Linked DNA regions of Homo sapiens: region 2 is linked to region 1. Evidence: fine-mapped expression QTL. Tissue or cell type: whole blood. Region 1 holds a variant in brackets; the other region holds the start of a gene. All regions are shown on one strand. Distances are between the middles of the regions.

Region 1 (8,104 bases):
TCCTGACTCCCACTTTGATACCACCATGTCCTCAGTTTTCAACCCACATGGATGGAACTCTGTGCTATTTCTGCCCCCTGGTCTAGGGAGATAGTCATTTTTCTGCCCATCTTCTGACCCCTCCCCTTCTCCTCCCTCTTGGCATTTGGCAGATCCAGGCATCTATTCCAGGAACTGGAAGCCAAGCGCAACAGGTGCTTGGAGGTCATCATGATCAGCCCAGACCCCAGGCCCTCCCCTGGCTTGGCCCGGTGGGCTGAGAGCTATGAGGCCAAGTGTGAGCGCAGGCAAGAGATCCGTGAAAGCCGCCGCTGCCGTCCCAATGTGACCACTTGCCGCCAGGTGGGGAAGACGCTGAGGATCCAACAGAGAGAGCAGCTCCAGAGAGCTCGACTGCAGCAGTTCTTCAGGAGGAGGAACCTGGAGCTAGAGGAGAAGGGCAAAGCGCAGCATCCCCAGGCCAGGGAGCAAGGGCCCTCCAGGCGGCCAGGACAGGTGACTGTCCTCAAGGAACCCTTGTCTTGTGCCAGAAGGATTTCTTCTCCCAGAGAGCAGGTGGGCCGTGTCAAGGGACATACTGCTGTGTGCTCTGGGACCCTCTCTGGACAAGGAGGGTGGGTGGGCTCAAGGTCACTAAAAAGTGACCTAAATCAAGTCCTTCTTCCTCAGTCATATAGTAAAGTTGCCAAGAGCTACTTATAGTAAAGTTGCCAACAGCTACTTATTCAGAGATTTTTGCTGTTGTGTTTTCGTTTGTTTAGCTCTTTTTGTTCTGCACTTGACTTATAAGAGAGAAAAAATAATTTTTAAAAACAATTTCAGGCTGGGCATGTTGGCTTATACCTGTAATCCCAGTACTTTGGGAGGCCAAGGCAGGAGGATCACTTGAGGCCAGGAGTTCGAGACCAGCCTTTTGATAGAGACAAGACCCTGTCTCTATCAAAAACTTTACAAACTAACCAGGCATGGTGGTGCACACCTGTAGTCCTAACTAATCAGGAGGCAAAGATGGGAGGATTACTTGAACCCAGGAGTTTGAAGCTGCAATAAGCTATGATCACACCATTGCACTCCAGCCTGGGCAAGAGAGGGAGACCCTATCTCTAAAAAACTTAAAAATAAAATAAATAAAAATAATTCCAAAGCTAATGCCTATATCAGTTCAAATTTAGGCAATATACACATGTCTTCTACAGCTATCTTACAGCATTCATTCATCCATCAGTCATCAAATATTTACTGAAAGCTTATTATATGCCAAGCACACAGGCCAGTCTTCTTGACACACACACAGACATATCTGTCCTCTTTTCTTCTGCAAGGCTGTTGTGCCCACTCTTCTCACTTCCTCTTGTGTCATTCCAATTCTATTAAATCACTTGACTATAGCCTCATCTGGTCCAGGAAGCTTTCCCTGGCTTCTCCAGGCCACCTCTGCTGTCTATGGGCCTTGTGAGGTTAAAATCTTCTAAGATTGTGTAACCCTTAGAGGGCCCATTAGTCTGGCCTGGAAAGGAACAATGTTGGCAAAAACCAGGGTATGCTGAGATGACCTTGGCCAGCAAACCATCTTCCTACTGAAGTTGTGAGCATGTTGACAGCAGGGATGTGTCCACTATGTTCCATGGTAATGCTTGGCATTGTTCCCTACCCAGAGTGGGTACTCTATCAGGGCTTCTTAACTAGTGGATCTGTTATGCTCAATAGGAGATGCTGTTCAGAGAAATGATCCTAGAGCCCAGTTGCAAAAGAAAAGGAACTGTATACTAAAGCAAAAAACCTTCCCACAACTCCCCACTTTACCTAGTCTTCACACAAAACCTCAATGATTTTCTAGCTGTTACTAAGAGAAAGGAGGCTTTCCTTTGAATATGGAAGGAACCTTATGGATTATCTATTCCAAACTCCTCACTACACAGACAGAAGACTGAGACCTAGAAAAGATGGGATCTGAACCCAGATCCCCTCACTCCCCACTCAGACCAGTTCTCTTTCCACATCACCATGCTGGCTATGTAAGTGGCCATAACCAAACAAGGTAGAGAGAGAAAAAAAAACAACAACTAGAGATTCTAGAGAGAAAACCTGGAGAAAAGTACAGCTCCACATATGCCTGGCCTGAGGAGGACCATTTCTGCCAGTCAGGACAAGGATATCAGGAGCAGGAGAAGCCTGTGTGGCTCTGAAAGCTTGAGTGGGCTACTTTGGTTTTGTGGATCTGAAACATTGTCTTCGTCCTGTAATGAATTACCACAGACTGGGTGGCTTAAATAACAGAAATTTATTTCTTACAATTCTGGAGTCTGGAGTTCTAAACCCATGGATTCTGCAGATCTGGTGTCTGATGAGAGCACTCTTCCCACTATGCAGATGGCCTTCTTCTCATTGTGTCCTCACAAGGCAGAGAGCAGAGAGAGAAAGCAAGCTCTCTCGTGTCTCTTCTAATAATGGCACTAATCCCATTCATGAGGGCTACCTGCTCTGACCTAATTATTTCTCAAAGTCTCCACCTCCTAATACTATCACATTGGGAGATAGGATTTCAACACACAGATTTGGGCGGGGGGACAATAAACACTCAGTCCATAACAAACATGATGGTTAGTTCTTCCTTCCGAAATCATCAGGAGAGTCTTTCAAGAGGCTCCAGGCAGTGGTTTTCAGCATTCCCCACTTGCCTTCCAGGTGACAGGCACCAGCTCTGAAGTCTTTCCAGCCCAGCATCCTCCTCCCTCAGGCATCTGCAGGGATCTGTCTGACCACCTCTCCTCACAGGCTGGGGGCCTTCCTCCACAGGACACTCCCATCAAGAAGCCACCCAAACACCACCGTGGTAAGAGCAGAGCCTCCCTCACTCCACAGGGCCTGCAGAGAATCCTGAGACAACTGTCCCAGCTCACTGGCAATGGAGAGTCCCTGTCCCTCCCCACTTCCCTCACTTCCTCCCTGTAAGTTCTAAATCAACTTATCCTCCATCTCTCAGGTACTCAGACAAAGGCAGAAGGACCAACAATTAAGAACGATGCCAGTCAGCAAACCAAGTGAGTTCCTGACCCTAACCCTCTCACATCCCATCCATTCCTCTCTAGAGAGAACACAATGAATTTCCATGTCCGCCTTAATTAAGAAAGAGGAAGCCCTTCCCCACCCTACTGGCTCTTCAGAAGGAATCAACCCACTGCCTCCTGACTTGATTCTTTGGTCCATTATCATTATTTTTAATTTCTTCTCTTTCCAGTTACGGAGTTGCAGTTCTGGATAAGGTAAGCACATATTCACTTTGAAGGGGTCAAATCAGAAAGTATTAAGCTCTGACATTCTGGAATTCCATGATAAACTTGGCTGGGATGGAGGGGCATCTTCTTCCTGGATGGCAAGGGGGTACTGAGCATAGACATGGGGACTAAAGGGACCCTGTCAGAGCCAAAGCAGAAGAGGTTTGCTCTACACAAGCCAGCCCAGGCTCTGGTTCTATATCCCAGGGTTTCAGGGGACTTACAGACATTTTGAATACCCTTGTTCTTTCTCTCCAGGAAATCATCCAGCTTTCTGATTACCTCAAAGTAAGTGGCATGTGACCCCTCCCCTCAGTTCCTCCATCCACTTACCCCCGATCCTCCAGGTTAATCTTACCCTCTTGCACTTTGTGCCCGCACCCCCAGGAGGCCCTACAAAGGGAGCTGGTCCTAAAACAGAAAATGGTGATTCTCCAAGACCTACTGTCCACTCTGATTCAGGCCTCTGACAGCTCTTGGAAGGTAAGGGAATGAAATTCTTTTTGAACAAAGCTTGGGCTTCTATGTGTTCCCATCTCATTTTTCTTTCCACATCATCACAGTAAGAGAAGGGGTTTTCTCACTACTGAAAAGTAAGCTGGGAAGAGGCAGGAGATGAGGGGGATGGTGCTCAGACCTAGAAGTCAAACAGGTCACAATAAATATATGGGTCATCACCTGAGGGTCATGGTGCTACATATCCAAGGAAGACCCAGAAACAAAAGTGGCAAGAATTCCCATTTTTTAATTTGTTGGAAGGAATGAAGGAAGATCCCAATATAGTTTACATTACTAAATATGCTAAATGTCAAATATTTTCATATGGGATTCCCACTGATATTTATCGAAACCAGCATGCCATGTACCCACTCAGTCCGAATAAAAATATCAGAGTGGGAAGGGACCTTAGAGACAATCTGGCCTAATACTCTCATTTTGCCCATGAGGAAACTGAGCTTCATAGGGGTCAAGTAACTTGCGAAAAGTCACACAGCTAGGTAGTGGCAGATCTGCAACTAAAATTCAGGCCTTTGATTTTAGTCCATTCAATGTACAATATTCATAGGTTATGTCCTCTATACAGAGCACTGGACTAGCACTAGAAATAATGAGATTATTTAGATAGGGTTCTTGCTTTGAGAAGGCTCACGGTTTTGTAAGAAAGACACATGACTAAACAATACAAAAACATGAAAAATAAAAGAAATGTTTTCAAGATATAGGAAAATACAAGAAGGAATGAGTGACTCCAGAGAAGAAAAGAGCCAGGGGAATACTTATATAAGCATTTGCCAGGAAAATATGGAAGAAGGAATAGTATTTTAGTTGGGGTACAGGCAAAGGTCTAAAGGCAAGGCC[G/A]GGGGTGGTGGCTCACACCTGTAATCCCAGCACTTTGGGAGCCCGAGGCGGGTGGATCACCTGAGGTCAGGAGTTCAAGACCAGCCTGGCCAACATGGCGAAACCCCGTCTCTACTAAAAATACAAAAATATTAGCTGGGTGTGGTTGCACATGCCTGTAATCCCAGCTACTCAGGAGGCTGAGGCAGGAGAATCGCTTGAACCAAGAAGGCAGAGGTTGCAGTAAGCTGAGATCACCTCATTGCACTCCAGCCTGGACAAAAGAGCGAGACTCCATCTCAAAAAAAAAAAAAAAAAATCTAAAGGCATGACACAGTCTAGTAAAATGGTTCTCCAATTTTTTTATTTCAGGATTCCTTTATACTTTTTAAATTATTGAAAATATATAAGAAATGTTTATATTTACCATACTAGAAATTAAAACAGTTGGCCAGGTGCCGTGCATCATGTCTGTAAATCCCAGCACTTTGGAAGGCTGATGCAGGAAGATCACCTGAGGTCAGGAATTAGAGACCAGCCCGGCCAACATGGCAAAACCCTGTCTCTACTAAAAATACAAAAATTAGCCAGGCGTGGTGGTGCACACCTGTAATCTCAGCTACTCCGGAGGCTGGGCCACGAGAATCGCTTGAGCCCAGGAAGTGGAGGTTGCAGTGAGCGATGATAGTGCCACTACACTCCAGCCTAGATGACAGAGCAGGACTCTGAGAGACAGGAGAGAGAGAGAGAGAGAGAGAGAGAGAGAGAGAGGGAGAGAGAGAGAGAGGAAGGAAGGAAGGAAGGAAGGAAGGAAGGAAGGAAGGAAGGAAGGAAGGAAGGAAGGAAGAAATTAAGATAGAAATTGAGAAAGAATTATTAATTTTAAAATAATGAGAGTAAAATTTTTCATGCTAACCTGAATTACATGTTTTAAGAAAAACAGTCTGGGTGCGGTGGTTCACACCTGTAATCCCAGACTTTGGGAGGCCAAGGCAGGTGGATCACTTGAGCTCAGGAGTTCAAGACCAGCCTGGGCAACATGGCAAAACCTCGTCTCTACTAAAAATACAAAAAATTAGCCAGGTACATTGGCATGCACCTGTAGTCTTAGGAACTCAGGAGGCTAAGGCAGGAGAATCTCTTACGTCCCAGGGGTGGAGGTTGCAGTGAGCCAAGACTGCACCACTGCATTCCAGCCTGGGCGATGGGAGTGAAACTCTGTCTCAAAAAAGAAAAAGAAAAAGAACCATATTTTCAAAAACAAAATTAGTGACAGGAGTATCATTGCTTTACACTTTTGCAAATATTTTTAATGTCTGGCTGAAAAAAAAGACAGCTAGCTTCTCAATTTGCTTCTGTATTCAATCTATTGGTTTAAACATAAAGAAAAATTCAGTTTCACACAAATATGTCATTAGAAAAAGTAAGACTTTGCTGATCCCTTAAAAGGGTCTTGGGGATTCCCAAGTTTCCTCAGAATCCCCATGTTGAAACCTGTAAATTAGTATGTACTATAAATTCATGTATTAATATGAGCTACAAGCAGCTTGACACCACCAAAGCATACCGCACCGGGTGGAAAGAGATGGAGCACACAACCTCACCGGCCTGTGTGACATCTCACCCTACCTTGAAGATGGCTTGAGCAGAGAAAGAAAGATGATGGGAGAGTATGGAACAAAACTGAGAAGTTGCAGTGATGTAAAAAAGATTTCCTAAGCTCAGCCCTGCTCCTCACGTCAGACATTGTACCTGGATTTCTCAATCTGTGGTCAGAGCTCCTGATTGTTAGGTCATTTTCATTGACAGAGCAGGAACTTGGGGCAGACAGCTGTGCACGTGAGGTGGTTTCTGGTCCTGAACTAAATTGAGATCATCTCACTCATTTGTTTGACAGTCATTTGATAAGTTCCAACTCTGTGCTGGGCCTTGTGCTACAGGGGCAAAGAGCATTACAGTCCTAACTCTTGAGGAGCTCACAGTCCAGCCATGAAGACAGAGACATGTAATAAATAACACCAAAACAGTATAATAAGGCTATAGCAGCAGTGCATAAAGCATGATGCAGGAAAAAGAGAAAGAAGGCAGCAATTATTCCACCTGAGGTGGAACAGGGAAGGCTTTAAAGGAAGGAAACCTGGCCAGGCACGGCAGCTCATGCCTATAATCCCAGCACTTTGGGAGGCCAAGGCAGGTGGACCACTTGAGGCCAGGAGTTCAAGACCAGCCTGGCCAACATGGCGAAAACCCGTCTCTACTAAAGATACAAAAATTAGCTGAGCGTAATCGTGCATGCCTGAAGTCCGAGCTACTCAGGAGGCTGAGACACAAGAATTGCTTGAACCCAGGAGGTGGAGGTTGCAGTGAGCTGAGATTGTGCCACTGCACTCCAGCCTGGGTGACGGAGCAAGATTCTGTCTCAAAAAATAAAAATAAAGGAAAGAAACCATTTTAGCTGAATCTTGAAGGATGAGTAGGAGCTAACCAGTAGAGAAGCAAGAGTGATGATGAGGGAAAAAAGCAGAAAGTAGAAGAGTGTTTAAGGTAAAGGAATTGGAATGATTACAGGCCTATGTATGGCAAAGAATTGGGTATAGCAGAGTATGGCTGAAATGAAGGTATGCCAGAGTAGTACCAAAGAAAGGATCTCAGACAGGTCTTTAGAATTATGGGTCTTAAACTTTTTCTGTTGAACAAGGTATCTCAAACTTGAATAATGCATGGACCCATTTTTAAAGGAAACCCATATATGTATATATATAAAATCAGAGATCCTTTAGAATGCATGCTACCCAGCTTGAGAAACACTGCTATAGGTAATAAGCTGAGTAAGAATGGAACTATGCTTTATTGAGGTATAAAGTCCTACACTTAGCAATGTCTGGCTCATCCTTAGAAGGTATGCAATTACTATCTGAGGAAATGACTTGTGAATGATCAGATCTGTGTCTTAAAAAGTTCTGTAATTTCCAACTGGATGCAGTGTCTCACACCTGTAATCCCAACACTTTGGGGGGCCAAGGCAGAAGGATCACTTGAGTGATCAAGACCAGCCTGGGCAACATAGTGAGACCTCATCTCTATTAAAAATAAAAAAATTAGCCATGCATGGTGGTACACACCTATAGTCACAGCTACTTGGGAGGCTGAGGCAGGAGGATCGCTTGAGCCCAGGAGGTCCAGGCTGCACCACTGTACTCCTGCATGGGGTAACAGAGCAAGACCCTGTCTTGAAAAAAAAAAAAGAGGGGGGAGGGTTCAAGGATTATCTAACTTGTAGCAATAAGAACCCTGGCTCCAAGCAGGGGTTGGGGGAGTTGAGACTCTTGTAATATCCCAGGTAAGACACAACCAGAGCTTGAATCAAAGCAAGCTTTGTGGGAATGAGGGGGGATATATTAAGAGACATTTCTGGGTTTGTCTCCAAGGAGGAGTTTCACCCCATGCTCCAGCCCAAGAGCAGAAGTTCCCTTGGTTGTGGTTTCCTCCCT
Region 2 (8,093 bases), 43 kb after region 1:
GATAACATTCAAGAGCAGCTGGCACTCACAGCAGAAAACAAAAGCCTTCCCAGATTGGGTGACTGATAAAAAAACAGTCACTGGAGAATTGTTTGTCTGAGATGTTGTGTTTGGATTTTTTGGTGTTCTTATTTTGTTTTTACTTAAGATGAGAATGAGATGCCTGGAAAAAGAACACTCATTCAACAAATATTTGTTCATCAGCTACTGTGTGCCAAGCACGGTGTTAGTTACTAAACACTGACGCTCCATGTTCCTTCTTGAGAAACTCCACACTGGAACTTCTCAAGCCCCACAATGGCCTGAGAAGGAGGGGAAGATAAATAGGTCACCTTCATACCCAGAAAGATCCCTACCTGGACCACAGTTCTGAAACCAAACAACCTTACAGCAAAGCAGCTAAATATGGGAATAAACTGTGCCAGGTGGGAAAGAAAAGAGGTTAAAAGGGTCAGCTGAAGGCTCCTACTCAGAAGAGCTTAGCTGACGGGGTGGCCCATAACACCACTTCTCTCCCCAGCCAGACTCCCAACAAATGTGAAAAACCCAAACCCAACTCAGCGTCTGGCACTTTAAGAGCAAGGCAAGACCTGCTCTCACCTGAGCTTTCTGACCCAATTACCAAGTCCTGCAACTGAAACCTTCCCCCTGGGAGCATAGTGGGTAGGTCAGGTTGGCACGCAGTGTTCAAGTACCCCCATGTAGTTGGCCTTGAATTACGGTGTTTTGTAGGGCAGCATGTGAAACCATCAAACCATGGAGTGCATTATAAGCCTTATAAGGAGGAGGGGATGCATATTCTCTCAACGGCTAGTTCTACCTTCTGCTCCCCAGTCCTATCACTACTGAAAGGGGGATGGAGCAAGAGAAGGAAAAAGAGGATAGGGAAATAGGCACCAAACCAGTCAATCTAGTAAAGAGCTTTTGAGAATTTCCATTGCAATACTGGTAAGTGCTGTGTTTGGGCCTGTCAGACATTAAAATCCAACTCTTGACTGATAGTGGACTGGAAGAAAAGTCCAAAAGGACTTATTGTAGTTGATCCAAATCCCACCATGCAAAAATTAAGGCAATCAGGCCAAGACCAGGAGCTGCACCTGATGATGGGAAAGGAGAAGCAGCCACCCACAGAAATCAGTGATTAAGATCTAGAGCCCTGGGTTCTCAGTGTTCTCCTAAGATGGGACTACACAAGAGCAGCCTTGCCTCAGCCCCATGGAAGGAGCCCCAGCCTGCCCTCCTCCAAGCCCATGCCCTGCCTCTCTCACTGTAAACCCTCTCCACCTTCTGAAAGTCAGCCAAGATCTCCCCCACTCACCACCCAGTAACTACAAGTCTAAAAACAGGCAGAGATGGAACAATTGAAAACCCAAATGGCCAAGACAGAAACATTCATTACGTCACAACCACAGGCTGCAATATTAAGTAGCCATTAACAACAGGTGTCAGAATTTGTATTATACTCAAGGAAATGTTTACAATATGAAGTTGTGGGGGCAGGGGGAAACAGCATACAACTTGACTGTGTAGCACTATCTCCATCTTGTAACACAGCATATACTTGCATACATGTGCACATACACACAGAACTGAAAAAAGGAAATAAATACAACAATGCAACAAAATATTTGTAATGGTTATCTAGTGATGCAACTATGGGTGCTTTTTACATTCTCCCATATACATTATATATGATTCATATTTTCCTACAATGATATGTTTCAATTTATAATTTAAAAAACTACAAGTAATTTTTTCTTAACCTCAGGACAATAAGACATTTCTTATGAAGGATGGTAACAACAATCCTTTGTATCTGTGTAGGCTTTACAATTTTTACATGAACCTTTACCTAACATGTCTGATTTCATCCTCATAAACCTGAATGTGATATTACTATCCCCATTTTACATCTGGGCTGAGGTGCTTTATTTCCTAAGTCACAGTGTTCTGTACCAAACCCTGCCACTGCACCTTGTCTTCCATGTCCCTCTCATCTTCTGCGCACCAAGAAAGTAAACTAAAAACATCAACAAAGATCCCAGCAGCATAGAGGGCCAATAAAGTGATTGAGGTGGAGACTGCATAACATCCACTCTCAAACACACCTAAATCAGAGTTCTCTTTCTAAACACTCTTGCCACCCAAATCCCAACGCCTGAAGAACCACCTTAGCCTAGTTGAACTCATCTTGGTATCTCTAGCTGCCATCACAGCAAAATGTAAGGCCTGTGTCTCTAACAGGTACTTAAACAGCCAAAGGACAATGATGCTAACCTATCTATTCCCCTCACAGTGAGCATAGAGGAGGGACACTTTCAGCCTCCTCCGAGCATAACTGTCCTCTCCCATACCCCTATTCTAGGGAGCAGGTCCTCCATAAACACCCTCATTGCCACCTCCATAGCTCCTCCCCAGACTAGTTTCCAGGGGCACTGCCACACAAAAGCCGAGATTTGGCCGTCAGTGGTTTTGCTCAGGTTAAAACACACGCCATTTCTCGCAGACAATTCTTAGCAGTCCCAGCTCTTCCCTTTCTCCTGAAAGAAATGAAATGCCATCGTCTAAGTTCCGTTCCTCAGGCTTCCCTGTTTAGCCCTGCTTAGGGGTAAACTGCAGGCCTCTAGTCAAAATGCCCACACCCTTCCCTTCTGCTGGATGGAAGCTGGGGGATGGCGAATGGGAGTTACAAGGTATTGAGTGCCACTGTCATACATCATACACACGTCTCATCCTAAACCACACTCCTGGGTCAACACCAGCTTTCACCAATCCCACCCAAGCGCCTTCCTCTCTCTATCCATCTCTTTTCCCTGACTTCCACTCTTGACATCCACCAAGAGAACAGGTTGGAACAGGATGACCCCTTTACCACAAAGCAGGCTCCCTGTAAAGAGTGACACCTCAGGCCTCCTTTCCAAGTCAGGCCTGGGAGACTTTCCCCATTCTCCACACCACCCTCCAGCCCCTTCGGGCAAAGAGGGCCCACCCCCAGAGCAACCACACCCCAGCGCCACCCTCCCCAGCACCTAGCTCCGCTCCTTGGAAATCCAAGGTTGTCTCCCAGGCCCAGGGCGAAGGGCCTAACTGTGCCAAACAGACTCAGGGAGGGAAGACAAACCGCCAATGCTCCAAAGCTCCTGGCCACCCTCACTCCAGTTTCCCAAAACGCCCACTAGGATCAAGGACCTGCGGACCTGGGAAGTCCCCTCTCTGGGACACAGGGGCCAGCCGCAAGTTGGTAAGACTGAAGGGGGCGCGGTGCTTTAGCTCTACCGGATAGTGGGGTTGTTGACGGCCGAGAGCAGTGCCCTCCGCTTCGGCGGTGGGGGTAGGGAGAGTAGACACAAGTGTAGATTCGAGAGGGGCCTAGCGCTACAGAACTGAGGCCGCCCCAAAGCTATCTGGAAAAGGGCGACAGGCACCCAGCCCCAGTGGGTACCCACCCCAAACACACAGATGCCCCCAAGCAAGTTCTCTCACCCCCTACAAACTCCGGGGATGGGTCCTACCCCACCCACGGGGGAGCCTCTCCTCCCTCAAGCTGGTCCCCAGAAGTTGGCGTACCCACCTTTGCTCAATCTGTCCACCAGAAGCGGACGTCCCTCCGAACCAAGTCCGCAGCGAAGATCACCCGTCGCTACCACGCTCCTCGACGTCTTAGCCAAGGGGCGCCTGGCTCTACCCAAGTAGGGACTGCAGGTTCCTCTCCCCGTCCCGCACCAGCCCTTACCTGCCCAGCCCAGGTGCGCCGAGCTCACGTCAGCGCCTCGCCCCAGGACGCCGCAGCCTTCGCATCCGCCCGGCCACGCCTCCCAGGTGTGGCCACGCCCCCCGGCGTTCGGGATTGGCGAGTTGCAAGAAATATGACACTCCGCGTTTCTGGGCTGCCCGGCCCAGCGGCGTCCGTCCAGCGTCCCACCCTACTCCTCCGCTTCTAACTCCGGCTAAGAAAGTCCCAGATTCAGGCCTAGCCTTACGGCTCAGGGCTGGTGGTCCTGGGAACTGGAAGCGACTGGGAGTTCAGATCTAAGTCGAGAGGGTGCCTCCCTCCTTCACGGCCCATAATTACCCTGCAGTATGCAGACAGTTAAGCACAAATAAGGGTTTTGAGATTCTGGGTTGGCCCTACTACTCGTGGGCCTGTGTAAGTGGAGTTGCACATGAAGAAGAGAACCAGGACACTTGGTCCTGTCTGGGAGAAGCCATAGGCTTTCAGGACTAGAATTCTACCTTTACTCTGCCTCTTACCCGTGTGACCCTGGGTAAGTTACTTAGCTTCTTGGCTTCTTGGTTTCAGTTTCCTCATCTCTTCAATGAGAATAATAATTCCTTCCTTCTTTTTTGTTGTTGTTTGCTTTTTTCTCTTTCTTTTTTCTTCCTTTTTTTTTTTTTTTTTTTTTGGAGATGGGGTCTTGCTATTAAGTTACACAGTCTGGTCTGCAACACCTGGGCTCAAGGGATCCGCCTCAGCCTCGCAAAGTGCTGGGATTACAGGCACTGGCACCCAGTTCAATTCCTTTTTTTTTTTTTTTTTTTTTTTTTAGGCAGGGTCTGGCTCTGTCATCCAGGCTAGAATGCAGTGGCACAATCATAGCTCAACCTCCTGGGCTCAAGCAATTATCCCACCTCACCCTCCCAAGTAACTGGAAATATAGGCATGGGTCACCATGCCCGGCTAATTTTTTTTTTTTTTTTTTAGAGACAGGGTCTGACTATGTTGCCCAGACTGGAGTTCCTGCTTCCTCTGATCACTATCGTGTAATGAGTAAAAGCATAGCCTCTGGAGCCAACTATTGGGGTTTAGACCCCAACTCCATCAGTTACTACAGACTTGGGAAAGTTTCTTAAGCTTTTTAGGCCCTGGTGTCTTATCTGTAGAAAGAGGTTAGTAATAGTACCTACCTCAGGGGTATTGTGGGAATTCAATAACTACATGTAAACTGCTTGCAACAATATTTAGCACTTATCAAGTGCTTTATATGTACTTGCAATTATTATTGGCATAAAGATTAAAAATACCATATAGACAGTGCGTCAGAGAACAAGAAGGCATTCCTTGTTATTACCTGAAATTCAAGTCCTGCATGTACCCTAACAGGTGCTTGATGAGATTGCCCTCACCTTCCTCATCTATCTAGAGGACCGGTTTGCAGGAGGCTGTGCAACAGTAAATGAGACTTTTAAAAATCCCCCACCCTCAACCACTGAGCTGTCGTAGGTGAAATGGGGCATGCGCAGGTCACTTAGGTTTTGGTGTTTAAAGTAATGAGTGAGAAACTGTGGAGGAGTGGTACAATGAGTTGAACTGTCACCCACATACAAAAAAATTTGTATTTGTATTTTGAAGTCCTGACCACCCCCACTGCAACCACAGCCAGATGTCAGAATATGACCTTATTGGGAGACAGGATCCTTATGGAGGTAATCAAGTTAAAACGTGGTTATTAGGGTGAGCCTGAATCCAATATGAATGGTGTCCTTATAAAAGGAGGAGATTTGGACACAGAGGCAGATACCCACAGAGGGAAGGTGATATGAAGAGACATAAAGAGAAGACAGCTAGCTGCAACCCAAGGAGAGATACCTGGAATAGAGCTCTTTTTTTTTTTTTTTTTTTCACATCCCTCAGACCCTTGATTTTAGACTTTTAAACTCCAGAACTATGAAACAAAAAATTTCTGTTGTTCAAGCCACCCACTCTGAGGTACATTGTTATGGTAGCCCTAGCATACTCATACAAGTGTGTTGAAGAGCCCCAGATTGATAATAATGTAGGCATGATTCCAAGTCCCAATTTAGCTTTGGAATGTAGCCAGCAAAGGCCTGGGAAGGCAGCAAGGCCCCAAGGCCTGACTCAGCCAGCCTCTGTCTCAACCACTGCCCTGTGGCCACTCTTCCCTTCACTGGGGGAAGGGCAAGCTCATCAGCACAGCTAGCTGTTTACTGCTGATGAGCTCACTAGACAAACAGCATCTTCCATCTGGCCCAGGGCTGGGCTCTGGGGACCAAACAAGCTCCACTGCAGGTGTATGAGAGGGATGAGGGGTAAGGCCATTGGGAGAGTGTCATTTGAGGGGAGTCAAAACCCCAGTGGCATACAAGTATGAGCCCACACACAGGCACTCACTTTTGCACCAGCTGAAATTCCCATGACTAAGGGGATGTCTTAAGGACCTTCTTTAGAAGACATATATTTTGGAATCAGAAAACTCAAGCTGGGAGGGTTCTTCTGGACTATCTAGATCAAGACTAAAACTGACTTAGCCAGTTTTTACCCACACAGTATTTTAAATATCAGGAGGTATCACATAAACATCAAAATTCTCAGCATCTCTTAAAGAGTCAAGTGCCCTGGATGCTCTACCAGCAGTTCTACCTGGCAACAGTTGCCCATTTAGAGGGAGTCTACACGTTACAGCCAATACAAACTCACTCTATTGAGCTCACTAATTTACTTTAATTGCCTGACCCTGTAGGCATCTGATTGCAACTTCTAGTCTAAATTCTCCCTTTTCATAGATGAGAAAACTGCGGCCCAGCGAGGTCAAGTGATTTACTCAAGGTCACATGGCATATTAGCCACAAACCAAGACTAGAACACAAACCCGGGGCTCTATCCACTTGGACCCCTGCTCAGCTCCGCAGCCAAAGTCTATTCTGACCTGTTCTGCACTGGCTGTTAACGATTTAAAAAAAAAAATCGCCAGGTGCAATCGCTCACACCTGTAATCCCAGCACTTTGAGAGGCTGAGGCGGGCAGATCACCTGAGGTCAGGAGCTGGAGACCGGACCGACCAATATGGTCAACTCTACTAAAAATACAAAATTAGCCAGGCTTGGTGGCGCATGCCTGTAATCCCAGCTACTCGGGAGGCTGAGGCAGGAGAATTGCCTGAACCCAGGAAGTGGAGGTTGCGGTGAGCCGAGATTGCACAATTGCACTCCAGCCTGAGCAACAAGAGGGAAACTCCATCTCAAAAAAAAAAAAAAAAAAAATCACCCATGGATCTAGGTACTGTTGATATTGTTGATATTGCCATAAACAAAACCAAGTCCCTACTCTCATGTCACTCAACTGAAGAATTAATGAAAGGGGGTAAAGCAGGTGGAATTAAGGTAGAGATCAGGAGGAACTCCCCGGCTCTGCAGGCAACAAGCCCTGACAATAGGCCACCCTGATGTCTTCTATTCTGATACACGCCTCATCTGCTTGATCTGGGGAATAAGAACATCTTGTGAGTCTTTCCACAAGCTCTTGAGGAATCAGTTCTTCTGTATTCTCAAAAGAGCCTCTTCAGGATTCAGTCATTCCCAACATGCCCTGGGCCTGCAATGCTCCCATCATTTTGCCCTCCATTGATAATCAGGTGCGGCATTGCTGACTCACTAGTGAGTCTGAGTTTCAGGTAGTGGGACGTACATTTCAGCACGGGGGCCCTGATTCACAGCCACAGGGAATGAGGGAATTCCCCTCTCCTGTTCCCAGTCAGCTCTCATTTGGTAGGAAAGAGTTTCTTTTTCCACCCAGAGACTTTAAACTCTACAATATCAGACATGTGACAATAAAACCATGAACCCAAATCCCACTCTCTTCTTGGCAGAGCAGAAAGCGTGGCAACTGGGACTCCTCCCAAAGGCTCCATACAGTGGAGAGTTTAGTGTTACTGGAGTTGGTGATAGCAAAGAAGCTGTGCACCTTTGGTGGAGTTGCTAAAGAGTCAGGTAGGGACATTGCACTAAACAATCCAATTCTGTGCTTTCAAAGGAAATCAGACTCCAACCTTCCTTCTGGAAGGCATTCTGGAGCCCATCAGGTCTACCCTCACTTTTCTCTTGGCCCTGGCTTATCTCTGTCTCCATCCAAGTATCTTAAAGCATCAGGGCCACAGGTGATCCTAACACATTGCCTAAGCCACAGCCTAAACTGAATGCACTCTGGTTGTTGCACTCTATAATGGCCTCCAAATTCTAGAATCACCAAGATGGCAGGAAGCATAAAAGAATCTCACTTTCCAATCCAAGCAATGGCACAGACTTTGGCTTTGGACTCTAGAAGAATTCTCCACCAAAGTGTTCAGAACATCTTCTGA

Evidence for each region. PIP is the estimated chance that this variant, and not a neighbour inherited with it, causes the effect.
Region 2: IRF6 starts here. The variant in region 1 is fine-mapped to the expression of IRF6 in whole blood (INTERVAL, PIP above 0.99).

The regions. Positions count from the first base shown.
Region 1 is chr1:209,759,830-209,767,933 of GRCh38, forward strand. It overlaps TRAF3IP3 (TRAF3 interacting protein 3), which reads left to right. Exons shown (of 17, transcript NM_025228.4): 3 at 153-555; 4 at 2,686-2,833; 5 at 2,984-3,041; 6 at 3,239-3,263; 7 at 3,534-3,563; 8 at 3,663-3,758. The coding sequence starts at 211. Among named protein-coding and RNA genes, the nearest start is that of TRAF3IP3, 7.8 kb to the left of the region's middle. The variant G/A (reference allele first, on the strand shown) is at 4,635.
Region 2 is chr1:209,802,376-209,810,468 of GRCh38, forward strand. IRF6 (interferon regulatory factor 6) reads right to left here and starts at 3,767. Exons shown (of 9, transcript NM_006147.4): 1 at 3,572-3,767. RefSeq lists a silencer at 3,689-4,032.